Linked DNA regions of Homo sapiens: region 1 is linked to region 2. Evidence: fine-mapped expression QTL. Tissue or cell type: nasal epithelium. Region 2 holds a variant in brackets; the other region holds the start of a gene. All regions are shown on one strand. Distances are between the middles of the regions. Region 1 holds the start of GCNT1 (glucosaminyl (N-acetyl) transferase 1). Region 2 holds the start of LOC124902184 (a long non-coding RNA gene).

Region 1 (17,195 bases), 63 kb after region 2:
GATATAGAGTTTGACCTGGGTGTCAGGTTTTTTTAAAAGTTCCACAGGTGTTCCTAATGTATAGCCAACACCGAGAACCATGACATGGAACATGAACCTGCATGATGTGGAAGGGGCTTGAAAAGGTCCTTCCCCTCCAGGACTGTCACCCCTAGTGGCTTTGATGCCCATCAAAAGATCAGCTGAGGCTGGGTGAGGTGGCTCACGCCTGTAATCCCAGCACTTTGGGAGGCCAAGGCGGGTGGATCACTAGGTCAGGAGATTGAGACCATCCTGGCTAACACGGTGAAACCCCATCTCTACTAAAAATACAAAAAATTAGCTGGGCGCGGTGGCGGGTGCCTGTAGTCCCAGATACTTGGGAGGCTGAGGCAGGAGAATCGCTTGAACCTGGGAGGCGTAGGTTGCAGTGAGCTGAGATCGTGCCACTGCACTCCAGCCTGGGCAACAGAGCAAGACTCCATCTCAAAGAAAAAAAAAAAAGATCAGCTGAGCATTTACTGCCTTTAGTTAACAAGCCTGTAAGGTCAAAGGTAGGAAGCAATTTGTAGAAAAAGTGGTGCAAGGCTATTTCAGGTGTACAGGGCCAAGCTTCAAGGTAATCATCATTCATAACACTTTCCAGGGAGCCAAACACAAAGCTTGGCACTAGAAAATGCTTACTAAATGCTGGCTGAAGAAATATCTGACTGCACACACAGACACACCCCAAACTCAGCCAATGGTTTTGCCACTTCCTTCAGAAAAAGTCCTCACGATTCTGGACCCAAAATCTAAAGCATCTTTATCCATCCTCTCCCTCCGTCCTTCCATCAAAGACCAAATTCTGCACTGTGTTCTCACCCTCTCTGAAAACTGGTCCTATCATTTATTTTACCCTCCTGCATCTTTAGGCTCTTCCTCTCTACCAGAAAATTCCCAGTAGTGGCCAGACACAGTGGCTCATGCCTATAATCCCACACTTTGGGAAGCCAAGGTGGGCAGATTGCCTCAGCTCAGGAATTTGAGACCAGCCTGGACAACACAGATGGTGAGACCCGTCTCTAGAAAAAGAATACAAAAATTAGCCAGGCGTAGTGCTGTACACCCTTGGTGCTACTTGAAGGCTGAGGTGAGAGGATGGCATGAGCCCCAGAGGGTGGAGGTTGCAGTGAGCTAAGATTGTGCCACTGCACTCCAGCCTGGGCAATGGAGAGAGATCCTGTCAAAAACAAAACAAACAAAATCCCAGTAGCATTAGAGCATGTTTAAATTTCTTCCATCTCAATCTGAAACAAAACAAAACATCATAGACCCCTCATTTCCTCCCTGCCCTGCATGAATATCACACTTCTCAGTACCCTTAACAGGCCTCTCTTCCTCTACCAAATACAGTGATCAAACTCTACGGGTCCAGCCCTTTTCTTTTCTCATTCTACACCCTCTTTGGATGAGTGCTTTTTATGCAGTAATACTTACATGCAACAGCTCCCAAACATGTATCTCCACCCCAGATCTCTTCCAGGAGTAGCAACTGTCTACTCCTCATCTTTACTTGGATGTCTCACAAACAAAACACACATCCAAAAAGGCATTATCTTCCCTCCCACACCTCGTGCCAACCCGCTCCTCCTCCTGTGTTCTCAATCACCATAATGGTTCCACCATCCCATCCTACTCAGTTGTTTATGCCAGAAACTTTTGAATCATCCTTGCTACCTCCCTCTCCATCAACCATATCCAAATAATCACCACCTTCTTGCTGATTTTAACTACAAACCCAATCTCACTCAATCTCAATCCTCACCTGTCATTAAGCGTTATCCAGTGCTGCTACGCCATCACTGGGTGACTGCAAAAGCACTGTTTGTTCACATCCACCCTCCTCCTCCCCAGGGTGGCCACATGATTGCACAGGCTGTGCCTGCGTAACAAGTCTGGCTCAGGGGGCTGAAGCCTTTTGACCTGGCCTAGCTGGGACACAGTGGTGCATTTTTTCTAATTGGTCCACACAGAATAGAAGCCTTTCTTGGGTTTGCACAAAGACACCAAACGTGCCAGCAGGACCTACCTCTCTAAACTATTCTCTACACAGCAACAGCGATCATTTTACAAACTCAAATTAGGCCAGGTGCGGTGGCTCACACCTGTAATCCTAGGACTTTGGGAGGCCGAGGTGAGAGGATCACTTGAGGTCAGGAGTTCAAGACCAGCCTGGCCAATATGCTGAAACCCCGTCTCTACTAAAAATACAAAAATTATCTGGGTGTGGTGACGCACATCTAATTCCAGCTACTTGGGGCAGAGGTTGCAGTGAGCCGAGATTGCACCATTGCACTCCAGTCTGGGTGACAGAGCAAGGCTCCGTCTAAAAAAAAATAAAAAAAAAAAAACTCAAATCAGAGTCAGGCACAGCAGGGCCTATGCAGTCCCAGCTACAAGGGAGGCTGAGGCAGGAGGATCACTTGAGCCCAGGAGTTTGATGGCAGTGTGCTATGATTGCTCCTGTGAATAGCCACTGCACTCCAGCCCGAGCAACATAGCAAGACTGTCTCAAAAACAAAAAAATCTCATTGGAAACTGGAGAAAATGAACTGGAGGAATGTGAGCAACACTACTGCCTGCCCTAACAAGGAAAATTGAGAGGATATTTCACCATATCAGGGATCTGCCTAAGAACATTTCTGAGAAGAATGTAGGAAGTGCTATCTGGCCCAGTATCTGCCTTTGAGAAAATGTGAGAGAGATGAACTAAAGAAGTATATTCAATTTTTAAGTAGAATTTAGAGAAAACATGAAGGACTCAGGACTTGATGGGTTTAAAATAAAACTACTTCTAGTCAGATATGGTAGCCCATGCCTATAGTCTCAACTACTTGAGAGGCTGAAGTGGGAGGATCACTTGAGCCTAGGAGTTCAACTGAAGTGTGCTATGATCTCACCTGTGAATAGCCACTGCACTCCAACCTGGACAACAAAGTGAGACACTGTCTTCAACAAACAAAACAACCACAAATCAAAAACACTTTAGTGGCCAGGGATGGTGGCTTACACCTGTAATCCCAGCACTCTGGGAGGCCAATGTGGGCAGATCGCTTGAGCTCGGGAGTTTGAGACCAGCCTGGGCAACATGGCAAAACCCCATCTCCATTAAAAATACAAAAATTACTCAGGCATAGTGGCGTGTGCCTGTAGTCCCAGCTACTCAGGAGGCTGAGGTGGGAGGATCACCTGAGCCTGGGAGGTGGAGGTTGCAGTGAGCCAAGATGGTGCCACTGCATTCCAACCTGGGCAACAGAGTGAGACCCTGTCTGCAACAAACAAACAAACAAAAAGTGGGTTTCCACTATGCTGACATTAAAGTCCAAAATCCTAAAAATGACCCAAGACATATTTTACTCTTGATCTCAACTCTTTCAGCCTCTAAGTTTATCCCCTAATGTACTTCACTAACTCCTACTAATCCTTCAGCCTTTTTTTTATTATTATTTTTACAAAAAAAAAAAAAAACAAAAAAAGAGATGGGAGTCTCGCTATGTTGACCTGGCTGGTCTCAAAGTCCTGGCCTCAAGCGATTCTCCCATCTCAGCCTCCCAAAGTGCTAGGATTACAGGTGTGAGCCACCATACCTGCCCCCAGGCCTTATTTTAAATATCATTTTTTAAGCAGGTCTTCCCTGAACAGTCCCTCTCCCCTCAACCAGGTTAGGTCTCAAGGTCACATGCTCCCCTAACACCCTGTGCTTTCCTAAGTACCACTTAAGATTGTGATAGCCTGAGCCGGTGTGACTATGTGTTTGGCTCATAAGCTCATAAAGGCAGGGACCCTCCATCTTGTTCACAGCTGTGGCCCTGGAGCGAGCAATGCCGGGCATCTAACAGATGCTCAGTAAATAGTTGTTCAATGAATGCCTGAATAAATAGGTTGCTCCAGTACCCATGACTCTAATGAACAAACATTTGGCTACCTCTTTAGCAAACGAAAAATCAATCATGGGAGGATTTCTTAGTAACATTATTGCATTGATGACCAAATACATGCAGACTCCTCATTGGAAACAGAAGAACAATCAAGGAAGCAGAAACTCCAGGTGCCTAGTGGCAGCAGTAACATTTCACGGTTTAGATTTGCATTTGTGACCACAACCTTACTCTTAGCTATGAATAAAGAGTTTCACCAGGGCCAGCTCATGGGTGGGCAACCAACGCAGTCACACTGGGCCGTGCTTGGCTTAATGCTCTGTGGTCACCATGTTCAAATTCTTAATTTTTTTAACAAGGGGCCCCACAAATTATGTAGCCAGTCCTGAGTTTTACAAATTAGTTTGATTTCTGGAAGGGAACAGTGGATAGCTAATCCCCAGCTAAGGAGGCATCCTCCATAATCAAGGTTGTTTTCAACCTCCCTGAGCACATGTAAGTCCTAAGAAAGAGGGTTACATTTCTAGGACATGTTTTCTTCTGATATAAATTATATCATACATTATGTAGCGCTCCCTTTGAGAAAGTCGAGATTTTTCAGATTACAGAAATACACAGCAGTCTTCGTTTTATTGCTGTTAGCTAAAAAGAGGTTAATTTTTCTTAAAACTAAATTCTACTTAAAACTACCGTAGAATTCCTTTTTCATTTTCAACTTTTTAAACTTTATGAAATTTAACAAATACACTGAACGCTTGAAATTTCTTTGGAGATAGAAACTGGCAGGGCATGCTTCTCAGAATAGGAAAAAGAAAAAAAAAGAAACTGGCAGGACACATTGGCCATTCACAAAGAACACTGGTTTAGTTATCTTTATGATAAAGGTGTTTCAAGGCGTCAGATGTTTAAATTTACAAATAGCTTCTCTAGTCCTGAAGAGTTTCAAGTTAATTGTTAAGCTTATAAATGTTTAGACCATCTCAGAAACATTTAGACCATCTTAAATATAGGTTCATTTTGTTCCTCAACCAAAGATGACTTTGTTCTCCGGGGAACATTTGCCTATGTCTGGAGACATTTGGGGTCATTTAACTGCAGGGAGGGTGCACTGGCATTTAGTAGGTAGAGGCCAGAGATGCTGCTAAACATCCTGCAATGCACAGGACAGCCCCCACAACAGAATTTAACTGGCCAAAAATGGCAAAAGTGCCACAATTGAGAAAGGCTGGTCTAAACATATATGGCATTTGCCTCAGATAGGAAACGTGACAGCACTAAGCCACAAATCCAGTGACAAAGCCAAGAATACAGACAGTCTCCACAAGAAACACATATGGTTATATGAACAGTCATTTGGGAACTCCCTTTTTAAGACAGGGAGTTAGACATTTGACATACTGACCTGGAACCATGAATACATTTCTCATTAGAATAAATAAAAATAGTGACAAGAGTCCTTGGTTGGCTCTATAAAAAAAAAAAAAATACAGTATAGCTGAAATACCACACACTTCATAGAAAACAGAATTTGACAGTCAGAAGGGATCATTTCCAGTAGTAATTTCTGTTTTCTACCACTTCATTTCATGAAAAATGTACAATATCTACATCACAGTTCAGAATTTTCCATTCATCGGAGAATATAATCACCGTGTACAGTAGCAGTTTTTAAGGCAGAGTTTTGCAAACAGATGATGCATGAAACAAATTTGATTTTATTCTTTGTGGGATTTTTGTTTTGAGACGGAGCTTCACTCTGTCGTCCAGGCTTGAGTGCAGTGGCACGATCCCTGCTCATCCTAACCTCCGCCTCCCGGGTTCAAGCAATTATCCTGCCTCAGCCTCCTGAGTAGCTAGGATTACAGGTGCCCACCACCACACCTGGCTAATTTTTGAATATTTTTGTAGAGATGGGGTTTTGCCATGTTGGTCAGGCTGGTCTTGAACTCCTGACCTCAAGTGATCCACCTGCCTCAGCCTCCCAAAATGTTGGGATTACAGGTGTGAGCCACCATGCCCAGGCTCTTTGTGTGTGTTTTTTTTTTTGAGACAGACTCTCGCTCTGTCACCCAGGCTGGAGTGCAGTGGTGCAATCTCGGCTCACTGCAACCTCCGCCTCCCGGGTTCAAGCAATTCTCCGTCTCAGCCTCCCGAGTAGCTGGGATTACAGGCGCCTAGCCACCACGCCCAGCTAATTTTTGAATTTTTAGTAGAGACACCATCTTGGCCAGGCTGGTCTTGAACTCCTGACCTCGTGATCCACCCGCCTGGGCCTCCCAAAGTGCCGGGATTACAGGTGTGAGCCACTGCGCCCGGCCCTCTTTGTGTTCTAAAAAGGAAAAAATATGAGCCAATATTTAAAATCAGGCTTTACATTTTTTATTTTTAAGTAAAAGTTCTCAGCTATTCGTGGAAAAAAAAAAAAAAAAAAAAAGCTGCCTACACTGTATGGCTGAATGGGAATTCCTGCATGGATACTCGGTGGAAATGGCCAATATCCACCCAGCCTTAGCAGGTTCCTCTGCAGTCACCTGGGCCCAACCAAGCACTCTTGTGCATTACCTGTTTAGTCCATGTGGATAAAGTGGATTTTGTGATCCCAGTTTTAGGGAAAAACGTTTTTCTTACTGTTAAGCAATTCAATTACAAACGGAAAAGGAGTAACTCCTTAAAAAGTGAGTGGAAGCATTGCTATCATTAATCAAGAATGAACTATAATTAATGAAGGATAGAATCTAGTACAAACTTGGGGCCAAGGCTAAGGAGATCCTTTACAGGGCCAAGTTGAAGGACGGGCAGAGGAGGTGGCAGTGACCGTCAAACCCTCATCATGAAATGGAAAAAATATCAACCTCTCGGCCAATAAAACTTTTTAAAAGTAAATTCATAGTTTGGTATATTGTATTTTAAAATAAAGGAGTTTGCCATTTCTAAGAAATCAGTTTCCCAAAACTACCATTTTAAGGGCCCGAAAAAAATTCCTTTAAGAAAAAGCAGGTATCTACACAGTCTGAGTTTTCCTCCCTGCTAGAACTGAAATCTGTTACGAAAGCCTCCAGCAGGGGGGCCTGCCTGGAATTGCCTAAGCTCCTAGCAGGTAATTTACACTGATCTTTAAAAACTACTAAGCCCTCCTCCTCCCCTCTATAAAACAAACCGGCCTTTCAGAACAGCTCTGGAAGGGGGGCAGAATGCCAGACGAAGAGACAACTTCCAGACCACGTCTCTCACCTCCCACCCATCAAATTCAGCCCACAAAAAGCTGTGGCCGCATTCTCATCTCAAGGCACCACGGCTTTCTTTGAACACCATATATCTTCCCAATTGGCCTCTTGCCCCATTATGTGTAAAAAACCGACTCTCTTTTCTGCAGAAAGAAATAACAAGGCAAAGGGTGTACAGGGCAACGTTTATATGCATCTACAGCATGCCAGGTGCCTACAGAACCTACCTCGGCCTAGGCGGTCCGTGCCCTAGCCGGGATCTGCAGGCGCCCTCATCCACGCTGGGAGACGGGAAGAGGAGAGGGAGGCGTGACAGGCGAGGGTGCCTGTGCTGCGCAGAAAGCGCTGCCAGGAGAAAAGAAGCAGTGAGCAAGGGCTTCTTCCATTTCAAAAACCTAATAACCAAAACTTGGAGGAATCTGCCTGAGATACTTAAAAAAAAGAGGAAAGAGAAACCTAGGAGGGGGTAAAATGCTTTTAAGACGAATCACTTGTTTTCGTAATAGACCCTGCGCGCGAGTTTCCTAGACTGCCGCGAGAAGAAGGAAAGCGAGGGAGCAGGAAAGGAGAGGCTTCGGAGCCCCTAAACTAACGTCTCTTTTCTTATTAGTAATAGTTTGCTCCAGGGTGAGTCATTTATTATCCTAGCGTTGGCCTCTTTATCAGTAAAGTAGGGGTGAAAATGCATCTTAGCCGGGCTGGCGTTAGGATTCAATGAAGTTAAATGAAGTTAAGCCCCTGGCACCCATGGGATGGCAGCGAGTCTGTTCGTTCCCTGCCTATCCACGCCCGCAGCCAACCCCTCCGACATCTAAGCTACACGGACCAGGGGCAAGAGGCCAGAAAGTGACTTTCAGGGGACACGGGGCACCGGCGTCCCAGCCCCACTGAGCGGACGGAAAATGAAGGTGGAAGGAAGAGGCGCCGCTCCATTCCGGTCCCGGGCGCACCCCGGTTCTGCTTCCTCCTCCGCGGGGGAGCCCAGCCCGCCCGGGGCCACGGGGCACTGGCTGAGAGCCGGCTCCCTCCCACCCATCCTTCTCAGCCTTCCCCCACCGCCGGGCGGCCGAGCAGGGGAACACGAGGGAGAGCCGGTTACCTGGAGTGGGCGTCTGACCCCGGAGTCTCAGGAGGATGCCCAGCCGCTCCTGCTCCACCAAGCTCCCGCCCCGCGCCGCGCTCTAGGCGCTCCGGAGCTGCGCCTGCAGCCCTCACACCAGCGTGGCCCGCCCCGGGGCCGCCCCCAGAGGCCCCGCCTTTCTAGGCCCCGCCCACCACGTCCCCGCCTCGCCCACCTGCGCGAGCTCGGGGCTGGGGACTTGCTGCGGACTCGCGGTTCCCGCCTACAGGCGAGGGCGCCCTCTGGGCACTGACGTGGTCTGGGAGTAGCGCTGCGATCCTAGTGCTTCCTCGCTCCTCTTCCTCACTGTGCTCTGATTCTTAAGAGGTGTGTGAGCGGCGTCTTTTTAAACATTTTATGCCTCCCTTCCTCGAAAGCAGGAAACTCGAGAAATGCTGCCTTTTCTGATTTTAAACATGAAAATATGTTACAGAACAACAATAAAATTAAATTCCAAGGTTCTCGATATGTAAAGTTTAGAGATAACCATGTAGGTGTTTTTTTCTCTCCCCTAACGAACCTTGCTTCCTAAATTTAGCATTTAAGAACTCATTACATTCATGTGTATTTCCACATAAAAATTAAGATCAAATTAAACTGTGGAACAATCCACAGTGCTGTGGAAAGTAGGAAAAAACCTTCCCCGCCCTTATAGCACAGATCTTTGTGTCAGTTATAAAAGTTGACACAGTTCTCTTTGTAACAAGGGGAATATTGTGTCTGTGTCTTCTTTCGTTGGATTTTTAGCTCCTAGAAAACAGAACGAGGTCTTATTTGTTTCCATGTTGTTTAAAAAAAATTCTGGCCGGGCGCGGTGGCTCACGCCTGTAATCCCAGCACTTTGGGAGGCCGAGGCGGGCGGATCACCAGGTCAGGAGATCGAGACCATCCTGGCTAACATGGTGAAACCGCGTCTCTACTAAATATACAAAAAATTAGCCAGGCGTGGTGGCGGGCGCCTGTAGTCCCAGCTACTCGGGAGGCTGAGTCAGGAGAATGGCGTGAACCCGGGAGGCGGAGCTTGCAGTGAGCCGAGATCGTGTCACTGCACTCCAGCCTGGGCAACAGAGCGAGACTCCATCTCAAAAAAAAAAAAAAAAAAAAAAAAATCCAACTCAGAGGCCATTAGACTGTGATATGTTTGACACTTGCCTGATTTGTCAACAAAAATTAACATAAGATGATGGTATAGAGGAAGAAAGACTTCCCCTCTACTCTCTGAGGCTTGGATAACTAAGTCTATGAAATAAATTGACTGCAGGTAGATTAACAAGAGAAAAAGTACACAGATTTCGTGTAGGGGGTATCACAGAAAAGAAAAACTAATATTCCCTCTGCCTCCCCCAACAAAAACTGAGATTTTAGGAGCTTGTGTATCCTCTTCATTGGGGAGGGACAATTTAGGGGAGAGGAAATGATTTTGGGAAAAACTCCTGAACTCCTTCAATGGCTAGCTTTGTTTAATATCTCATGAAATTTTTCATGAGCAATTCAAGCATAATTGTTAAGAGCAAGTAGATTAGGTAAATGTAAATGGAATAAAAGTTTATAAACTTTTAAAAATAATTTGTTTTATAAAATTTGTCTACTTAAAAATAGTTTTAAAAATCTTTTTTGGTGACTTGAAATTTCGAACATATTAAATTAAGTAATAGATATTCATTAAATGTCTGAGTCATTTGTAAGTTAAAATACTGACATGTTAATTGCTAAACATAAGTTTAAAGTATAGCCGGGGCTGGGCACAGTGGCTCATGCCTGTAATTCCAGCACTTTGGGAGGCCGAGGTGGGTGGATCACCTGAAGTCAGGAGTTTGAGTCCAGCCTGGCCAACATACCAAAACCCCGTCTCTACTAAAAATACAAAAATTAGCCAGCTGCGGTGGCGTGTGCCTGCAGTCCCAGCTACTCAGGAGGCTGAGGCATGAGAATCGCTTGAACCCGGGAGGTGGAGGTTGCAGTGAGCTGAGATCGTGCCACTGCACTCTGGCCTGCGTGACAAAGCAAGGCTCCATCTCAAAAATAAATAAATTAATTAATTAAAAATAAAATATAGCTGGCTGTTTGCAATGGCTCACGCTTGTAATTCCAACACTTTAGGAAGCCGAGGTACAAGTATCACTTGAGCCTGGGAGTTTGAGATCAGCCTGGGCAGCATAGCCAGACCTCACCTCTACAAAATAAAAATAGATAAATTAACCAGGGGTGGTGGCCAAGCAATAGATTTATGAATTAACTTTTGGAATATATCTTGTTTGTCAGTTGGATACTGCCTGTATACCATAAGTGTAATCCATTTTGTTTGTGTATGTGACAGGGTCTCACTCTGTTACTCAGGCTGGAGCACAGTGGCGCAATCACAGCTCACTGCAGCCTCAACTTACCCCTGCTCAGGTGATTCTCTCACCTCAACCTCCCAAGTAGCTGGGACTACAGGTGTGTGCCACCATGCCCGGTAATTTTTTGGTATTTTTTGTAGAGATAGGGTTTCACCATGTTGCCCAGGCTGGGTTTGAACTCCCACGCTCAAGCGATCCACCCACCTCAGTCTCCCATAATGCTGGGATTACAGGTGTGAGCCACCTTGCCCAGCCCACTTATTTTTAATGCCTGCAATAACATACACCCATAAATCTATACAAGTAGTTTAGAAGGTATTTCTGGAATGCTTAGGGGTGTATCAGTCAGGGCCCAGTCAGAAAACAGAAATCACAGCAATTACTTTTACAGAGAATTTAAGGTCATGAAGATTGGCAAGGCAAAAACATTGTAGTAACAGAGAGAGAGTAACTGCAGGAAGCAGCTGCCATGCACAGAGCTGGGGAGAGGGGAAGTGTTGGGGTTATCAGAACCTAACAGCCAGGAGAGGGCCCCTGGTTGGCTGGGAGTCAGACCTCAAAGGAGGGGGCGGTACCCAGCTGGTGCTTTTATCTCTGAAGGTAAATATTGAGGCTGGATGGGAGAGGGTGGATTAAAACAAACAAACAAATCTAAGAAACTGGAACCAGCTGTTGCTGCAGCCAGGGAGAAGAGCCATTGCTTGGTAACATGGACAGGAACAGTAAGCAGCTATAAAGTAGCAAGTCCCTCTCCTCAAGCACCCCTTATAAGCAAAACCTTATAGGAAATGTGATTTGCTAAGTCCCAGCCCTGGCTCACAAAGCAGAAGATAGAAGCTTGAGTTTGAACTCTAAGACATACTTCAATAACCAGCACAAGGAGCAAACTCATGATCACAAACACCCAACTCTCCTAATATTATAGATGTGGGAAAGTGTCTGATAAACACAGCTGTCATAGTAATGATTAATACAATAGCAATATATTCTTAAAATGTCATAATAAAACTATAGTTACAAGTACAATCAAATAACGGGACAGAGGCAGGGCATGGTGGCTTATGCCTGTAATCCCAGCACTTCGGGAGGCCGAGGTGGGCAGATCACTTGAGGTAAGGAGTTCGAGTTCCAGCCTAGCCAACATGGCGAAACCCCGTCTCTACTAAAAATATAAAAATTAGCTGGGTGCGGTGGCACATGCCTGTAATCCTAGCTACTGGGGAGGCTGAGGCACGAGAATCGGTTGAATCTGGGAGGCGGAGGTTCCAGTGAGCCAAGATCATGCCACTGCACTCCAGCCTGGGTGACAGAGCAAGATTCCATCTCAAAAATAGATAAATAAATAAGAATAAATTAAAAAAAAAGTAAGGGGATGGTGTTGCTTGACCTATACTTTGTGTTACTGGAGACCAGTGAACATCCTCTCCCGGCTGTATTTTCTGAGAAACCACTAACTACATAGAACCACCTTTCCCCAAATGACTTAGGTAATCATCATGGATAACATCCTTTCACACTTACAACAAGGCCATAGACATGCGCTCCAAATTTCCATTCTCATCTTATAAATGGTTAGCTGAACCATTTGCCCCTACTGATCAATCTGGGCAAATACCTTACTTGATCAAACTTCAATGAGGCTTTTCTCCTTCCATCAGGTCTTTGCCCTTTAATCTAGTCTCAGCCTAAACCAGCATTGGAATTTGGAATAAGCCCCTTAATGTCCTGTATTAGTCTGCTTTCACATTGCTATAAAGACATTTCTGAGACTGGATGATTTATAAAGAAAAGAGGTTTAAAGGCTGGGTGCGGTGGCTCACGCCTGTAATCTCAGCACTCTGGGAGGCTGAGGCGGGCGAATCACAAGGTTAGGAGTTCGAGACCAGCCTGACCAACATGGTGAAACTCTGTCTCTACTAAAAATACAAAAATTATCCAGGCGTGGTGGTGCACGCCTGTAATCCCAGCTACTCAGGAGGCTGAGGCAGGAGAGTCGCTTGAACCCGGGAGGCGGAGGTTGCAGTGAGCTGAGATCATGCCACTGCACTCCAGCCTGGCGACAGAGTGAGACTCTGTCTAACAAAAAAAAAAAAAAAAAAAAAAGAAAAGAAAAGAGGTTTAATTGACTCACAGTTTTGCCTGGCTGGGGGGGCCTCAGGAAACTTTTAATCATGACAGCAGGGGAAGAGGCACATCTTACACGGCGGCAGATGAGAGAGAGCAAGCAAGAGCAGGGAAAACAGCCTTATAAGACCATCAGATCTCCTGAGAACTCACTCACTATCACAAAAACAACACGGGGGAAACTGCCCCCACGATCCAATCACCTCCACCAAGCCCCTCCCTCACCACGTGGGGATTATGGGGATTACAATTCAAGATGAGATTTGGGTGGGGTTTGGGTGGGAACACAGCCAAACCATATCACATCCCCTCCCAAGAAGCCCTTTTCCAGCTGACCACAAAGAAACTCTGTCCTGATCAGTTGCCTGATTGGGCCACCTGCTCATCCCACTCCCTGATACTGGTTCTTTTTTTTTTTTTTTTTTTTTTTTTTTTCTTTTCTGAGACAGAGTTTCGCTCTTGTTGCCCAGGCTGGAGTACAATGGTGGTGCAATCTCAGCTCACTGCAACCTCCGCCTCCCGGGTTCAAGCGATTCTTCTGCCTCAGCCTCCCAAGTAGCTGGGATTACAGGCATGCACCAACCATGCCCAGCTAATTTTGTATTTTTAGACGAGTTTTCACCATGTTGGTCAGGCTGGTCTCAAACTCCTGACCTCAGGTGATCCTCCCACCTTGGCCTCTCAGAGTGCTGGGATTACAGGCATGAGCCACCGCACTCAGCCGATACTGGTTCTTTTTAACATTGTTTACTACTACCAAAAAAAGAAAAACCCTTTTCTGCCTGACCTTTCAAAAGCTTGCAGATCTTATGGTTGAAGCATTCTATTAGAATGCCGTCCCTCCCCTATTGCGACATTCTCTTTTTCTATTGCAATAATCCTTCTAAATAAAGTCTCTCCTTACCTAGATCTGGATTTGGTTTTTATTTGACAGTTCTCATTGCTGTGATCCAGCTCAAGACTGGAACTCACCTAGGGACCTCCACCAGCCCCACCCAGGTAAAGGTGCCATGTTCAGGACTTGAGGACTCTTGGGTGAGTTCAAGTCTTGAACCAGTGCTCTGGCCATCTTGTCTGTTGAAGAACAGTAAGAGGTTACTTTGATTGTTTCAGGCAAAGAGATGCTTTGGCCCTCCTGTGAGACTTCTGTGTTTCCTCAGCTCCTCGACCTGGGGATTGTTCAAGGGAATTAATCAAGTGGGAGTTTTTCTTGGCTCCTTTAAAGACTTTTCTTTGGGCTGACTATCCACTAATGCCATGGGTAACTCTCACTCTATCAGATGCCCTCCTCTTCCCCCACTGAGTACCTGCTATTATGGCACTAATTCAGTTTAATAGCCTCAAAAATGGCACAATTTACTAAAGGTAACCTAGAACCTCAAAGGCCTCTTTGGGAAACATGAGATCTCCTTAAACCAGCTCATCTAAGACTTCTCCCTTCCCATCATCCTCATCCCTCCTTTTTACCACTTTAAACCTTCTCTTTTGTTGCCTTGAATGATTTAATCTGTCCACCTCCTTCACCCATCTACCCATTCCTACACACCTTTTCCTACCCACTCCAGCTCCTCAACTCATGGTCACTCAAGATTAGGCCTCCCTTCTGTTCTGACCACCTTCTCTTCACAGCACTGGTGAAGCAGGGATCTCCTGTGCTAAACAGGAGATGGCTGAACAGATGACACCCAATACTGGGCAGATGAGATTGGCTACAGTTTTTTCAGTTACATACTCACAGCCTAAGGGGTGAGGAGGTTATTGCATGCCAGGCAGAGCCACATGGGAATTGCATTTGAAAGCAGACTGAAGCAGCAGGGGCTGTGTGAGGCAGGCTTTGTAGTAATGGCACAAGAGTGAGGTAACCTTTTATTCCACGGGAGGATGTAATTGGCTTGTTCAAATAGTTCTGTGGGCTGGCAGGTAGGTAAAGCTCCTTAGATTGAAGATTAAGTAGGGTACAGCTGGTCTGGCTGAAGGGGAAACTAGCTGGGTAGGGAGCCCTTCCCACTTCGGGGGTGATATGGTTTCGATCAGTGTCCCTGCCCAAATCTCATATCGAATTGTAGTCCCCAGTTGTGGAAGTGGGGCCTGATGGAGTGTGATTGAATCCTGGAGGCGGTTTCTAATGGTTTAGCACCATCCCTTTGGTGCTGTCTTGTCATGGAGTTCTCATGAGATCTGGTTGTTTAAAAGTATGTGGCACCTCCTCCCTGCCTCTCCTCCCCCTGCTCCAGCCGTGTAAGATGTACCTGCTTCCCCTTCAACTTGCATCATGATTGTAAGTTTCCTGAGGCCTCCCAAGCCATGCTTTCTGTGCAGCGTACAGAACTGTGAGCCAATTAAACCTCTTTTCTTTATAAATTACCCAGTCTCAGGTAGTTCTTTATAGCGATACAAGAATGGTCTAATATAAGTACCTAGATCATTTCTAAGTAAGATAGACTAGTGGAGCATAATTTAAAGCTTATGTAAATTTTTTTTAGTACAGAGAGGCTAAATATATTTTGGTCTGCTAATGATGTGTTCATTCTTGCCACACTGAAAAGTTGTACAGGCCAGGTGCAGTGGTTCACACCTGTAATCCCAGCACTTTGGGAGGCCAAGGTGGGTGGATCACCTGAGGTCAGGAGTTTGAGATCAACCTGACCAACATGGTGAAACCCCATCTGTACTAAAAATACAAAAATTAGCTGGATGTGGTGGCAGGGGCCTGTAATCCCAGTTACTCGGGAGGCTGAGGCAGGAGAATCACTTGAAGCCAGGAGGTGGAGGTTGCAGTAAGCCGAGATCACACCATTGCACTCCAGCCTGGGCGACAGAGAGAGACTCCATCTCAAAACAACAACAACAACAACAAAAAAAAAAAAAAAAAAGAAAGAAAGAAAAGAAAAGAAAAGTTGTACTATAAGGAAGTGTATGGCTATAAAAAAGTCACAAGATATATAACCTTAAGCTTGACTAGTCTGCTACAATATGCTGGTATATGACAGACAGCTAATTATCTACTTCATAGTTTTCTCTGTAGGTATATTACTTTGCTAGGTCTGTCAACAAAGTACCATAGACTGGTACTTTAAACAACAGAATTTTGTTTTCTCACAATTCTGGAGGCTGGAAGTCCAAAATTGAGTGTCAGCAGAGTTGGGCTTTTTCTGAGGCCTCTCTCCTTGGCTTGTAGATGCCAAGATTAATATTTCTTTGGCCTTTTATATTAAAACTTTTAATTAACATTTATCTTTTTAATGGTAGGCATTCCTCATTTTAAGATACCTGACCCTTAAACAACTGATTTTTGCCACCACCTTTCAACAGATGCTTCAGCTGGTTTTGTGGGAACAACACCAACCAGAGTCCCCAGGAGACCGTTTCTTAGTCCCTGACTCACCCCATGTAGGAGGCTTAGGATTGCATCTGAATTGCTCAGTGGTGAATAATATTCTTTTATCATTAACAAAAGGGAGGTCAACAGTGTTGATCTTTGCCAGAGCCTTGTTTTTCTGAAAAATAGCACTGGCTAAAGAGCTCTCCTCATCCTTTTATGATAGCCACCCATCCTCTTCTTGCAATAATCCTTTTGAATAAAGTCTCCCCTTGCCTAAATCCAGATTTATTTTGACAAATGCTACAAAATTAGTTTTGAATTGTTTTAGAAATTTAATCAAATTACATTGAAAAGAACATGAGGAAGACATAAAAGAGTAAGGTACTACTTTCAAAGCATGGAGAAAGCAAATTCAATCATAAATGTACTGTCCAGGAAAAAAAGAAAGTGTGGCTCCTAAGCATGCAAATTCCAGGTAGAGTAAAGCCTGAAATATGTTTCTAAAACCCATACATGTAAGTTCTTTAATGTTTTTAAAAAGAAACAGGTTGATCCCTTTTAAGAGCAGGCAGCATTTCTCAGAATGGCAACAAAGCTAAAATCACACACAAAATAGTTTGATATAGTTAATACATTAAAGTGTTAAATGTATGCATAACAAAATATATCATAAACAAAGTTAAAAGTCAACAAACTAGAAAATATATGCAATAGTATGTAAGCAAAAATTAATTTTTCAAATAAAGGGGTGTTTACGTAAAAATATGCACCAGGTGAAAAATGGGCAAAGGGCATGATAAGATACTTCACTAAAGAAGAAATCCACATAAAAAGATGCTCAATTTCAATAGGAATTGAAGAAAAGCAAATTAAAACTACAAATCACTTTTTACCTATCAGATTGGCAAAGTTGAAAAAGATTGATAAACATAATATAGATGAAGGTGTAGGAATACAGACTCCTGTGCTGCTCTCTGTTGTAGAGATTTCTACAAACTTTCTAGAAGGCATTTGGACAACATGGATACTTATGGACAACTATTCATCTAGGAATTTATCCTATGTAGGAAATTTTACAAATACACAAAGATTTCAGAATCGAAACACTGTAAACAATGTAAGGGTTGTTAAAAAATAATTTTCAGAGAAAGATAAAATCATGACTCA
Region 2 (13,832 bases):
GCTCACCCTTTGGGTCCACGCTGCCTTTATGAGCTGTAACAATGAGCTGTAACACTCAGTGCGAAGGTCTGCAGCTTCACTCCTGAAGCCAGCCAGGGAGACCATGAACCCACGGGGAGGGATGAACAATTCCAGATGGGAGGAATGAACAATTCCAGATGGGAGGAATGAACAATTCCAGATGGGAGGAATGAACAATTCCAGATGGGAGGAACGAACAACTCTGGACGTGCCACCTTTATGAACTGTAACACTCACAGCAAAGGTCTGCAGTTTCACTCCTGAGGCCAGTGAGACCACGAACCCACTGGAAGGAACGAACAACTCCAGATGCGCCGCCCACTCACTGCGAAGGTCTGCAGCTTCACTCCTGAAGTCAGCAAGACCAGCAACCCCCCAGAAGGAAGAAACTCTGGACACATCTGAACATCAGAAGGAACAAACTCGGGACACAACACTTACCGCGAGGGTCCACGGCTCCGTTCTTGAGGTCAGCGAGACCAACAACCCACCAATTCTGGACACATTTTTGCTCCAGGCACCTTCAGAGAAATGGTCAAGAAAGCAGCGTAAAGATCAACTGGAAATGAAAATTTCTGGATATGCTTTTACTTATGAAGAATATAATGGGGGGCCCAGTATAGTGGCTCATGCTTGTAATCCCAGCACTTAGGGAGGCAAAAGTGGGAGAATCACTTGAGCCCAGGAGTTACCTGGGCAGCTTAGCGAGACCTCATGTCTACGAAAATAAAAATTAAAAACTTAGCCACATGTGGTGGTCCCAGGTACTTGGGAGGCTGAGGTAGGAGGATCGCTTGAGCCTGGGAGGTCGAGGCTGTAGTGAGCTATGATTCCCACCACTACACTTAAGCCTGGGTGACAGTGAAATCCCCTCTCTCGAAAAGAATATAACAGCTATCATCACAGCCTGCGAAGTCAGTCACTTTGCCCTGAGGCATGTTCTGTGTTCTGAGGCAAGGATAGGAGGCTGACCCCTCAACCACCTACTTTTCTATTCAGCCACTGAAGCCTTCTGTGGCCTTCCCTGAGACCTGTGAAACAGTTGGGAGACCATTAGTACAGCAGTTCTTAAGCAGGCCAATTTTTTTCCATTTGGAGGCATTTCAAAATATCTAATGATCTTTTAAAAATTTTATTTAAACTGTTGTCTTTTAGTGGGCAAGGTCAAAGAATGCTAAAAGTCTTGCAAGGTAGGGATAGTTGGGCAAAAGAAAGATTTTCCTCTTACCCAAAAATATCAATAACACCACTATTGTGAGGTATCTGTGTAAGAACTGGGGAATTTGATTGAAGGATTTTTTTTTTTTTTTTTTTTTGAGACGGAGCCTTGCTCTGTCACCCAGGTTGGAGTGCACTGGTACGCTCTTGGCTCACTGCAACCTTTGCCTCCCAGGTTCAAGCGATTCTCTTGCCTCAGCCTCCGGAGTAGCTGGGATTACATGCACCTGCCACCACACGTAGCTAATTTCTGTATTTTTAGTAGAGATGGGGTTTTGCTATGATGGCCAGGCTGGTCTCAAAACTCCTGACTTCAGGTGATCCACCTGCCTTGGATCCCAGAGTGCTGGGATTATAGGCATGAGCCCCCGCACCCAGCCTAATTGAAGGAATTTCTTTCTTGCTATTGTGTTTAACTCCTGTATATGTGTTACAGGTATGGAAGGATGATATGTGATATTAGCTGATATGATTTCCTACATTCACTTTTTTGTCCCACGAAAAGGACAGAGATGCCCTCCTTCCAGGTTCCTCATGGCTCAGAAGTAGCATGAGAGAAGATTATATTGGTCTTGAGTGGTGCATGAAAGAGTCAGAAGACCTCACCAGGGATCCTAGACAAGGATAAAAGGATGTGCCTCAAAGGAATGAAGGGTGTCTGTCCTTACAGGAAATTGTGTAAGAACACAGTGAATTGATTCAAGTCAGTTTGGTCGTGCTCAACCCTTAGATTGTTTCTGTTAGAAGATAGTAGACACTAAAGAAATTTGAGGGAGTGAGATTTAGCTGTGCTTTCATAATCTCACAATCAGGTTACAGGAAAGAAATCTTAGCCCAAATCCTGTCACCCACATAGGTGTTTACTATGCAAACATTCATTAGTCACCACTAAGGAGTTGGTACTGTCCTGTTGGTGTAATGAAATTCTAGCTCTGTACTCTTTTAGGTGATCCAATCACACATTGCATGAAATGCTTACAAGCAGCACACAACAGCACTTCAGAAGCAGGAGTCTCTCTCTTCCAACTGGCATCATTCAGAAATCCTCCTATACCAACAGCTGCTTATAGGACAACTCAGGGAGCAAGCTAGATTTTAGGTCTTCCTTAATTGTTACACCCCCACCCATACAAGAGTTAGGAGTCTCTTTAAGGTATTTTTAGCCAGTCCTCATATTTTGAATACCTTTAGCATCACAAATGAGAGCTCATTTCTAAGAATCATGCTAAATAACTGCTTCTTGACAAAAGTTACTAGTTTCTCCAGTGAAATCCCTTTTCAGACATTCAGTATGTTTAATAGCAAAGTGTTAGTTTGATGAAGCCATCTCTGGGATGGAACCTTTTCTGATTTAATGTGAACTGATCATGCCTTAACTATGCATTATAAATTATCTGAAGGTTTTGGCTTCATCTAAGTAACAGATATTGGCCAGGCGTGGTGGCTCACACCTGTAATCCCAGCACTTTGGGAGGCCGAGGTAGGTGGATCACCCGAGGTCAGGAGTTCAAGACCAGCCTGGCCAACATAATGAAACCCTGTCTCTAAATAAACAAATAACAGATACAAAATATCACGATGTATATGCTGAGATCTTTTAAAATAAGTTACAGTCACTGTAACACAATGGAATCTGCATGGGTCCCAATGCTATGGGGGCCAAGTGAGATCTGCACCTGCAGATCAGTCACCACTTAAAATACTCTGGGTACTATGCAAGTGCTAAGGAAACATCTGGAGCCAAAGGCCAGTAGAGGACTGAGAGACCCGGAAGCAAGGTGACTGTCTCTTCACTCTCAGTTATTGGCAGGAATTAAGAGCTGAGTGAGGGGGAAAGGAGACTAGAAAGAAAAACCTTAGAGGAAGGGCTACTGCGAATAGAGTAGCCACTTAACCCTGAAGAATTTTTTTTAATCAATTTTTTTGGACTTGAACTATCAACAGAATTTTTAAAAAATTATTTACAGAATTAACAAAATTATTTCTTTCAGATAGGTGTGATGGTTAATACTGAGTGTCAACTTGATTGGATTGAAGGGTGCAAGGTATTGTTCCCGGGTATGTCTGTGAGGGTGATGGCAAAGGTGATTCACATTTGAGTCAGTGGACTGGGAGAGGCAGACCCACCCTCAGTCTGGGTGGGCACCATCTAATCAGCTGCCAGTGTGGCTACAATAAAGCAGGCAGGAGAAGATGGAAGAGGAGACTTGCTGAGTCTTCTGGTCTCCGTCTTTCTCCTGTGCTGGATGCTTCCTGCCCTTGAACATCAGACTCCAAGTTCTTCAGCTTTTGGACTTTTGGACTTACACCATTAGTTTGCCAGGGCCTCTCAGGCTTTTGGCCACAGACTGAAGGCTGAACTGTCGGCTTCCTTACTTTCGAGGTTTTGGGACTCGGACTGGCTTCCTTGCTCCTCAGCTTGCAGACAGTCTGTTGTGGGACTTAACCTTGCGATTGTGTGTGTCAGTTCTCCTAATAAGCTCCCCTTCATATATACATCTATTCTATTAGTTCTGTCCCTCTAGAGAACCCTAATACAAAATTCCAGCTGTGCCAAGGGACATCAAGAAAAGCAATTGTGTTTCTGCTTGCTTGAGAGACCCAGAGGGAAATTTTGCTCTGTAGGTACCAGTTTGTTGATGGCTATGAGCATGAGGAGAGTGATTCCACAGGCAGGGAATAGAACTCGGGGACACAGATGGGTCCTTATCTGTCAAATTCTTCCTCATGGAATTTATTTTGCTCTCTTTTAAAATTGCATAAGAAATTGTTATTCATGGTAGAAACATCTGAAACTCAAATGAAACGTTAAAAAAAAGGAAAGAATCCCTTGTAACCTCCTTACCCAGTGATAACAATTGTTACTGAGAGGTGACAGCGTGCTGGCAGTCCTCACAGCGCTCGCTTGCTCTTGGCGCCTCCTCTGCCTGGGCTCCCACTTTGGCGGCACTTGAGGAGCCCTTCAGCCCGTCGCTGCACTGTGGGAACCCCTTTCTGGGCTGGCCAAGGCCAGAGCCGGCTCCCTCAACTTGCAAGGAGGTGTGGAGGGAGAGGCGCAGCCGGGAACCGGGGCTGCGCGCCGTGCTTGCGGGCCAGCGCGAGTTCCGGGTGGGTAGGGTCAGCGGACCCCGCACTTGGAGGGGCCGGCCGACTCCACCGGACCCGGGCAGTAAGGGGTTTAGCACCTGGGCCAGCAGCTGATGTGCTCAATTTCTCGCTGGGCCTTAGCTGCCTTCCTGCGGGGCAGGGCTTGGGACCTGCAGCCCGCCATGCCTGAGCCTCCCCCCGCTGCCCCACCGTGTGCTCCTGTGCCGCGGGAGCCTCCCCGACAAGCACCGCCCCCTGCTCCATGGCGCCCAGTCCCATGAAACCACCCAAGGGCTGAGGAGCGCAGGCGCACGGCGCGGGACTGGCAGGCAGCTCCACCTGCAGCCCCTGTGTGGGATCCACTGGGTGAAGCCAGCTGGGCTCCTGAGTCTGGTGGGGACGTGGAGAACCTTTATGTCTCTCTCAGGGATTGTAAATACACCAATCGGCACTCTGTATCTAGCTCAAGGTTTGTAAACACACCAGTCAGCACCCTGTGTCTAGCTCAGGGTTTGTGAATGCACCAGTCGACACTCTGTATCTAGCTACTCTGGTGGTGACTTGGAGAACCTTTGTGTCTATCTCAGGGATTGTAAACACACCAATCAGCACCCTGTCAAAACAGACCACGCGGATCTACCAATCAGCAGGATGTGGGTGGGGCCAGATAAGAGAATAAAAGCAGGCTGCCCGAGCCAGCAGGGGCAATCCGCTGGGGTCTCCTTCCACACTGTGGAAGTTTTGTTCTTTCGCTCTTTGCAATAAATCTTGCTATTGCTCACTCTTTGGGTCCACACTGCCTTTATGAGCTGTAACACCGCGAAGGTCTGCAGCTTCGCTCCTGAAGCCAGCGAGACCACGAGCCTAGCGGGAGGAACAAACAACCCCAGACGGGCCGCCTTAAGAGCTGTAACACTCACCAGGAAGGTCCGCAGCTTCACTCCTGAGCCAGCGAGACCACGAACCCACCAGAAGGAAGAAACTGAACACATCGAACATCAGAAGGAACAAACTCCGGACACGCTGCCTTTAAGAACTGTAACACTCACTGCGAGGGTCCGCGGCTTCATTCTTGAAGTCAGTGAGACCAAGAACCCACCAATTCCGGACACATTACCATTTTAAAGTATAGCTTTACAGATCTGTTTTTATACATTCACATATGTGTAAATATTTCAAAACTAGGATCACACTGTATATATTCTTTTGCAGTGTGTTCTTGTTTAACTCATTGTATTGTGGACTTTTCATGTCAATAAACATTTGTCTATTCCAGTGGTTCTCAAACTTGAGGATGCATCAGAATCACTTAAAAAGCTCGATAAAGGCCCAGCGCAGTGGCTCATGCCTGTAATCCCAGCACTTTGGGAGGCTGAGGTGGGTAGATTGCTTGAGGCCAGGAGTTAGAGACCCGCCTGGCCAACATAGCACAACTCCATCTTTACTAAAAATACAAAAATTAGCTGGGTGTGGTGGTGTGCACCTGTAATCCCAGCTACTCGGGAGGCTGAGGCTTGAGAATCCTTTGAACCCTGGAGGTGGAGGCTGCAGTAAGCTCAGATCACACCACTGCAGTCCAGCTTGGAACACAGAGTGAGACTCTGTTTCAAGAGAAGAAAGAAAAAAAAAAGCACTTGATAAAGCACAGGTTGCTGGTTTCCACCTACCAAGTCTCTACTTTAGTAGTTCTAAGTTAGGGTCTGAAAATTGCATTTCAGATAAGGTGATTCTTTTCTTCTTTTTTGTTGTTGTTTCTTGAGACAAGGTCTTGTTCTGTCACCCAGGCTGGAGTGCAGTGGTGTGATCATGACTCACTGCAGACTTGACCTCCTGGGCTCAAGTGACCCTCTTGCTTCAGCCTTCTGAGTAGCTGGGACTGCAGGTGTGTGCCACCACGCCTGGCTAATTTTGTTTATTTTTTGTAGAGACAAGGTCTCATTATGTTGCTTAGGCTTGTCTCGAACTCTTGGACTAAAGCCATCTTTCCCCCTTGGCCTACCAAAGTGCTAGGATTACAGGTATGAGTGAGCCATCACCACCAGCCAAACAAGGTAATGTTGTTGCTACTGGTCGGGGGGCACACTTGGAGAAGCTTGGGTCATCTGTTAATAGATCATTAGGTAATATAATTTGTGGGTTGTCTGTTGGTTTTTTGGAGACAGTAAATGGAGACTTTGTAACAAGGGCTTGATACGCAGTGATAGGGTAATAATAAAATTGCAATTTATCATTTCTTTCATGGTAACAATTTGAGGACTGAATAAAAGGTTTTGGGACTAAAATTAGATATTCAATAAGTAATAAGTAAATAGGCCCCAGGCATAGCACTGAAAGCGCTGCCTAGTGTTCGTAAGTGCAGGAAGGCTGTGACCTGCCTTACAGAGAGAAAATGTGTGCTAGATAAGCTTTGTTCAGGCACGACTTACAGTTCAATGTGAATGAGTCAACAATCTTGTACACCTAAAAAGGAAGGGGACATTTCCCAGTCGGGTGTGACACTGCTCCAGAAAGCGCTAAAGTAACATCTATAGTGCATCTTAGATCTACGAATAAGATGGAAGAGTGGCTAAATGGGTGTATTCATGAGATGATGACAGATTAAAAAAAAAAAAAACATAGTGGACAGCATTTCTGTGAGGCTGAAAGCCAAGAAATTTATGGAAAAGTGTTAAACCCTTTGTGGCTAGTGCTGACTGGCCCACACGTTTCAAAAGGCGATGAGGCATGGAAAAATGTTAAACCTGTGGGAGGGGTAGGTTCTGCAGATCAGAATGCTGTGGAACAGTTTTTTAAATATTTGCTAAGTGTTCTATGGGAAAAGGGTTACTGGAAGAGACGATTTTCAACCCTGGTGAGACTGGCTTGTTTTACAAGGAAGTTGGAAAATGAACCTATAGAACGCAAATGGCATATCAATTGACAAAAATGTAGTGACCAGAGGTTCTCAGGAGCCTCATCTTATATTTCCCCTTGCAGCAATAGTCCAATATTCACTAATTTAGTGTTTGCTATGAGTTTATAGAACATAACTACCATGAATAATAAGAAGTGATCATACCTGGCTGGCTGTGTGGTGGCTCATGCCTGTAATCTCAGCACTTGGGAGGCTGAGGTTGGAGGACTGCATGAGCCCAGGAGTTCGAGACCAGTCTGGACAACATAGTGAGAACCTGTCTCAATTAAATATATGTGTACATGTATATATCTTTTTTAAAAAAGAATTAATCATACCTGGTTCACCCTCATAGATTTTAAAACATAAGGTAGAGCCCAGACATCTGTTTTTACCAACCCTTTTATTTGATTTTGAAGCAGTCTAGTATTTGAAAATTATTTGTAATACACTGTATCTAGTTTCCTTATATTTCCAAAAGCCTGTCATATAGTCCATAGGTATCATTGTCCTTTTTTTTTTTTTTTTGAGACGGAGTCTCACTCTGTCACCCAGGCTGGAGTGCAGTGGCATGATCTCGGCTCACTGCAACCTCCGCCTCCCAGGCTCAAGCAATTCTCCTGCCTCAGCCTCCTGAGTAGCTGGGATTACAGGCACGCACCACCACAACAGGCTAATTTTTGTATTTTTAGTAGAGATGGGGTTTCACCATGTTGGTCAGGCTGGTGTCGAACTCCTGACCTCATGATCTGCCTGCCTCAGCCTCCCAAAGTGCTGGGATTACAGGTGTGAGCCACCATGCCCAGCCAACATTATTGCTTTTTTTTCCTGAGTTATCTGATGGGGGACTCCTTGGCCTGCCTCACACAAGGATTCTTTTTAACCCCCTGTGATTGAGTAGAAAGGAAGTAGGCTGGGTGACATTTTTTCTTTTTAACACTGGTTGATTCCTAAGAGAAATCACATCTGCTTTTTGAGACATCCTACATTCACCCATCCATCTTTTCACTCATCAGATTTAAGTCCCATACGAGCAGCAATCATGAATATTTGGTTCACCAAGGTAAACCTGTACCTAGTCAGTAACTTTCACATAGTAAACACTCTGCCCAATATAAGACAGGCACTGCGATGGAAACGAAATTATTCCTATAAATCAGGGGTTCTCAAGCAGGGACGATTTTACCTTCCAAGAGACATCTCACAATGTCTGGAGGCATCTTTATCACAAGATGATGCCTTGGGGTTGGGTTGGGGTTGCCACTGGCATCTAACAGGTAGAGACCAGGGCTGCTGCCAAACATTCATAATGCACAGGACAGCCTCCACCCCCACAACAAAGAATTATCTAGCCCAAAATGTCAATAGTGCCCAGGTAGAGGGAAACATTCTTAAATGGCTATAAAAATTAGAGTAGGCAATTTCTCATCGTCTGACATTGCACTCCAGGGCAGATTCAACTGTTAAGTGACACAGCAGTACTGAATCATGTCTGTCCCCACAGCCCACCTACCACGCAAAGTTATGAGGAAAGATTCCTGGGGAAGGCTTTCCTCTCTCTTGTCCCACTGGTTTATTGTTGCCCTCCTAAGTCAAAAATGCATACTATTTTTTTTCAAGCTTTTGCACTCATACTCTTCCCTGTTTTCACTCTCCATCCCTATTTCCTTGTTTGCACTTCATGCGAAGTGGAGTCCAGCTTCCTAGGAAACAGGTGTACCCTGACCTCCCTCATGCAGTTTCTAGAAATGGCTTGGGAAAGAATGCAGCTGGAGACCCACAAAAGTGCACTGTCTCCGGCTCCTCGTTCTTTCTTCTCTTCTCCTGGTGAACAGAAGGAACTTCGACCTGCCTGAGCCCGCAGCTCTGTAACC[A/G]CACATGAGGGATCAGTCCACCCACCCTGTTATTTCAGTTGCATGCTTAGGCAGTGAGGAAAGGACATTAGATTCCTAAAGATCAAATTTCCTGAACAGAAATATTTGTGGGCAGGAAAAAAACCTGACAGGACACTTTAATTCAGGTGCGGTGTTTAGTTTTCAGTAAGGTTTTATTTCACAGGGAGAATAAAGACAAGCTGAATTCAGCCAAATTATAAAAGGTTATCAGTAAGTCCGTATTTTCCCCCTCGATTGTTTATGGTTTCTATTTGAGGAAAAAATATCTAAAATTATTTTTTTCCCTTAAGAGTGGTTAATCAAAATTAAGCAAATTAATTGACTTTATCGATTTATTAGGTTGGTGCAAAAGTAATTGTGGGTTTTGCCATTAAAAGTAGCAGCAATGGCTGGGCGCGGTGGCTCACGCCTGTAATCCCAGCACATTGAGAGGCTGAGGTGGGCAGATCACCTGAGGTAAGGAGTTCAAGACCAGCCTGGCCAACACGGTGAAACCCCATCTATACTAAAGACACAAAAATTACCCAGGCGTTGTGGCGCATGCCTGAGGCAGGAGAACCACTTGAACCCAGGAGACAGGGGTTGCAGTGAGCTGAGATGGCGCCACTGCACTCCAGCCTGGGTGACAGAGCAAGACTCCATCTCAATAAATAAATAAAAGTGGGGAGGTAATTGGGGATATTTCTATTATCCCCCAATATTAATTGGGGACAGGAAAGGTAGAGGGTATATGGGAATATGGAAATTCTCTGTACTTTTCACTTAATTTTGCTGTGAACTTAAAACTGCTCTAAAAAATAAAGTTGATTTAAAAAAAAATCACACATATGTGCACAAGTAAGTTCAATGGCCTATTTTAGATGATGGTGATTAATTCTGTCTAGGATACTGTGGAAGCCAGAGAAAAGAGTGGACATTTATGTAAGGCCGTGGGGGACACAGATGGTCAGAAAAGATCTCATAGGCTAGGCGCAGTGGCTCACACCTATAATCCCAGCACTTTGGGAGGCCGAGGCGGGTGGATCACTTGAGGTCAGGAGTTCGAGACCAGCCTGCCCAACATGGTGAAACCCTGTCTCTGCTGAAAATACAAAAATTATACAGGCGTGATGGTGGGCGCCTGTAATCCCAGCTACTCAGGAGGCTGAGGCAGGAGAATCTCTTGAACTCTGGAGGCAGAAGTTCCAGTGAGCCAAGATTGCACCACTGCACTCCAGCCTAGGTGATGGAGCGAGACTGTCTCAAAAACAAAAACAAAAACAAAAAAACCTCATGGAGGTGGTGATATCTGAGCTGAATGTTGAAAGGTGAGGGTGTTCTAGTCTGAAAGCCTGAAGAAATATGTTCTAACAGACTGCAGTGTGAATGAAGACCTTTTCCGATGGAAATGCTTAAAAAAAAAATCACTCTCCCTTAAACAATCAAATGTATTGGATGATATAAATGAACAGGCTTGGGCTCAGCTTGCTCCAGGGCTTGCAGGACAGCCTCATGAGATAGTTTGTATCTCCCCATTTCTCCTCAGTGTTGGTTAATTCTCCTGCTTCCTGTAAGAGAGTGCAACAATCCCAGCACCTTCTTACTCTCAGTTCACATTAAGTGGGGACAATGCAAACAGGCTGAAAGTGAGGGAAGAGACTGTTTCCCCAGGCTACTGTTTTATTAGATGGATGATGAGTAGATACCAGGAGTAAAAACTCCAAATGAGCACGATTCATGAAGACGTGAAACAGCATCATGTGTGGTCCAGGAATGGGTAGAGCAACCTATACAATAAAGAAGACTGGAGAGGTGGGACTGAGGCCAGATCATGGAGTGTTCTGTGTACCATTTGAAGAAATCAAGATTTTTATGTTTTAGGCAACAGGGAATCTTTGAAAAAGTTTATGCAAGAGTGTGCAATTATCAAATTTTCATTTCTGATAGAACTCTGACAGTGGGAAGGTACTGTGTGACTTGGTCAAATAACTTGTCCTCTCTAAGCTGCTTCAGTGTTTACATTTGTATAATGTGGACAAAAATAGTGCCAATACCATAGGATTATGGCGAACTTTAATGAGACAGTATTTGTAAAATGCTTAGGACAGTGCTTGGCATTTAATGAGAGCTAAATATTTGCTGCTACTCATATTGTAACTATTGTTATTATTGTTGCTGTTGCTAACGAAGTGGAAGAGTTTGAGATAGGAGGCATGGAGGTGACAGGCAAAACCAGCTACACCCACACAGTTTACGATCTTCATCAGCAGAAATTTCTTATTCCAGAAGCTCTCACCCTGGAGGTAAAATTTGCAAATAACTTCCTTTTTTTACTCCAGGAACATCTTCAGAGTTACATCAATAAAAAGCAGTTTATACTCTAAGATTGTTTGAACCCTTTGCCTCAAAATCCTTACTTTGCTGTGTCTTCTCATCTTAAACTATTTCATCATGATTATTTGCCAAGACCCCACATTGTCAGACTCACCTTAGTCAGAATCCAAAATCTCCTAAACAGTGTGATTGGGTTGTCCTCTCAGCGAAATGTTACCAAGACTCTGAAGACGGAGCTCTCTGTTACTGCAGTGAGCAATAGACTCTGCTTTGTCTGAGGACCAGATCGTTTTGGTGATATTTTCAGGAAGCTGGTATTCAAGAGCAGGCAGCTCAGAAACTGGCAATGGTCCAGGTGAGAGATGGTGAGAGATGAACAGGGCTTGATGACAAGACGGGAGCATGTGAACGGAGTCACTGTGAAGGAGAGAGGCCTTAGTAAGTGGGTGTGAGGAGACAGGAACATTCAAGGACACTGCTCGGTTTGGCAGCTTCAGTACCTGGATAGACTGTGGAAGGATTTTCCAAAGTAGAAGCTGCAAAGTTTGCTAGGTATAATTCAGGATGTGTGTTGATGTGTGATAACGGGAACCAGCTTTATTAAACTTATGCTGATTTCTAACCATCCACCAAGACCCCTTCAGAGGTAGGTGACCTGGCTGCAAATAGTTTGGGTTAGGCTTCTCAGGTTCCATAAGAGGATGTCCTCCAATGCTCTGCTCAGTTATAATTCTCTTCTTAATCAGAAATTTCGCCTGTTGGTGCCCAATACTCTAAGTGTGAGTGTATCACCTGTATGTGGCTAAGCCTATTTGTGGCTCCCCTGTTCTTTCCCTTTGCCTGTGTACAGGCACATTTCTGAATTGCTAATGCCCATAAAACATAAATTCCATTTTAAAGCACTGATGTATATTATACTGGATATTTAGGGGGAAGATAAAGATGGGATGACCAACTTATTCTGATTTTAGCATCCCAAACCCAGTATCCCAGAAACCTCCACAGTCCAGGGTAAATTGAGGTGATTGATCACCTAAGATAAAGGAGAAGGTTAAAACCACCCTTCAAATCTCCTTTCACTGGGAAGTTTATAGCAGTAAATACTGAACGAGCAACAAATATTGAGGCCAAGCATGGTGGCTCATGCCTGTAATCCCAGCACTTTGAGAGGCTGAGATGGGAGGATTGCTTGAGCCCAGGAGTTTGAGACAAACCTGGGCAACATAGTGAGACCTCCTCTGTACAAAAATTAAGAAATTACCTGGGCATGGTGGCATCTGCCTGTGGTCCCAGTTACTTGGGAGGCTGAGATGGAAGGATCACTTGAGCTCAGGAGGTTGAGGCTGCAGTGAGCCATGATCACATCACTGTGCTTCTGCCTGGGCAACAGAGCAAGACCCTGTCTTAAAAACAAACAAGCAAAAAATCAAAAAACTTACGTTAAGAAAAATGAAATATCTCAACTAAACAACCTAACTTTATACCTCAAGGAGGTAAGAGAATAATAGGCCAAGCCTCAAGTTAGCAAAGGAAGAAAATAACAAAAATTAGAGCAGGAAAAATAAAATAGAGAAAATAGAGACTATTATAGAAAAACAGTAGAAAGATCAATGAGACTAAGAGTTGGTTTTCTGAAAAGAGAAAGTCGACAAACCCTTGGCTAGACTAATTTAGGAAAAGAGAGAATTCAAGTAAAATTTTAAATTAAAGAAGAGACATTACAACTCATACCACGGAAATTCAAAAGATCATAAGAGACAACTATGAATAATTATATGCCAATAAATTAGATAACTTATAAGAAATGAACAAATTACTAGAAACATACCACCTACCAAAATTAAATTATGAAGAATAGAAAATCTCAGCAGACCAATAATGTATAAGGAGACTGAATCAGTAATCAAAAATCTCCCAAGAAAGAAAAGCCAAGGACCAGAGAGCTTCACAAATATTTAAAGAAGAATTAATATCTATTTGTCCCAAACTCTTTCAAAAAAAATTGAAAAGATAACACTTCTAAAACTCATTTTATGAGAATAGCATTGCTCAGATACTGAAGCCAGACAAGGACACTACAAAACAAGAAAACTATAGGTCAACATTGCTGATGAACATAAATGTAAAAATCCTCAACAAAATACTAGTAAACCAAATTCAACAACACGTTAAAAGGATCATACATCATGATCAAGAGGGATTTATCATGAGGATGTAAGGATGGTTCAGTGTACACACATCAATAAATGTGATATACCATATTAACAGAATGAAGGATGAAAATGATGATCTCAAGAGATGCAGAAAGAACATTTGAAAAAATTAAATATTGTTTTGTGATTTAAAAAACTCTCAATGAATTAGGTATAGAGGGAATGTACCTCAAAATAATAAAGGCCGTATAT

What was found. PIP is the estimated chance that this variant, and not a neighbour inherited with it, causes the effect.
Region 1: GCNT1 starts here. The variant in region 2 is fine-mapped to the expression of GCNT1 in nasal epithelium (TOPMed, PIP above 0.99).

The regions. Positions count from the first base shown.
Region 1 is chr9:76,450,333-76,467,527 of GRCh38, reverse strand. GCNT1 (glucosaminyl (N-acetyl) transferase 1) reads right to left here and starts at 8,346. Exons shown (of 4, transcript NM_001490.5): 1 at 8,223-8,346; 2 at 7,351-7,468. RefSeq lists silencers at 4,076-4,125, 6,962-7,031, 8,022-8,561 and an enhancer at 7,302-7,411.
Region 2 is chr9:76,514,526-76,528,357 of GRCh38, reverse strand. LOC124902184 (a long non-coding RNA gene) reads right to left here and starts at 12,830. Exons shown (of 2, transcript XR_007061585.1): 1 at 12,689-12,830; 2 at 11,150-11,844. The variant A/G (reference allele first, on the strand shown) is at 9,094.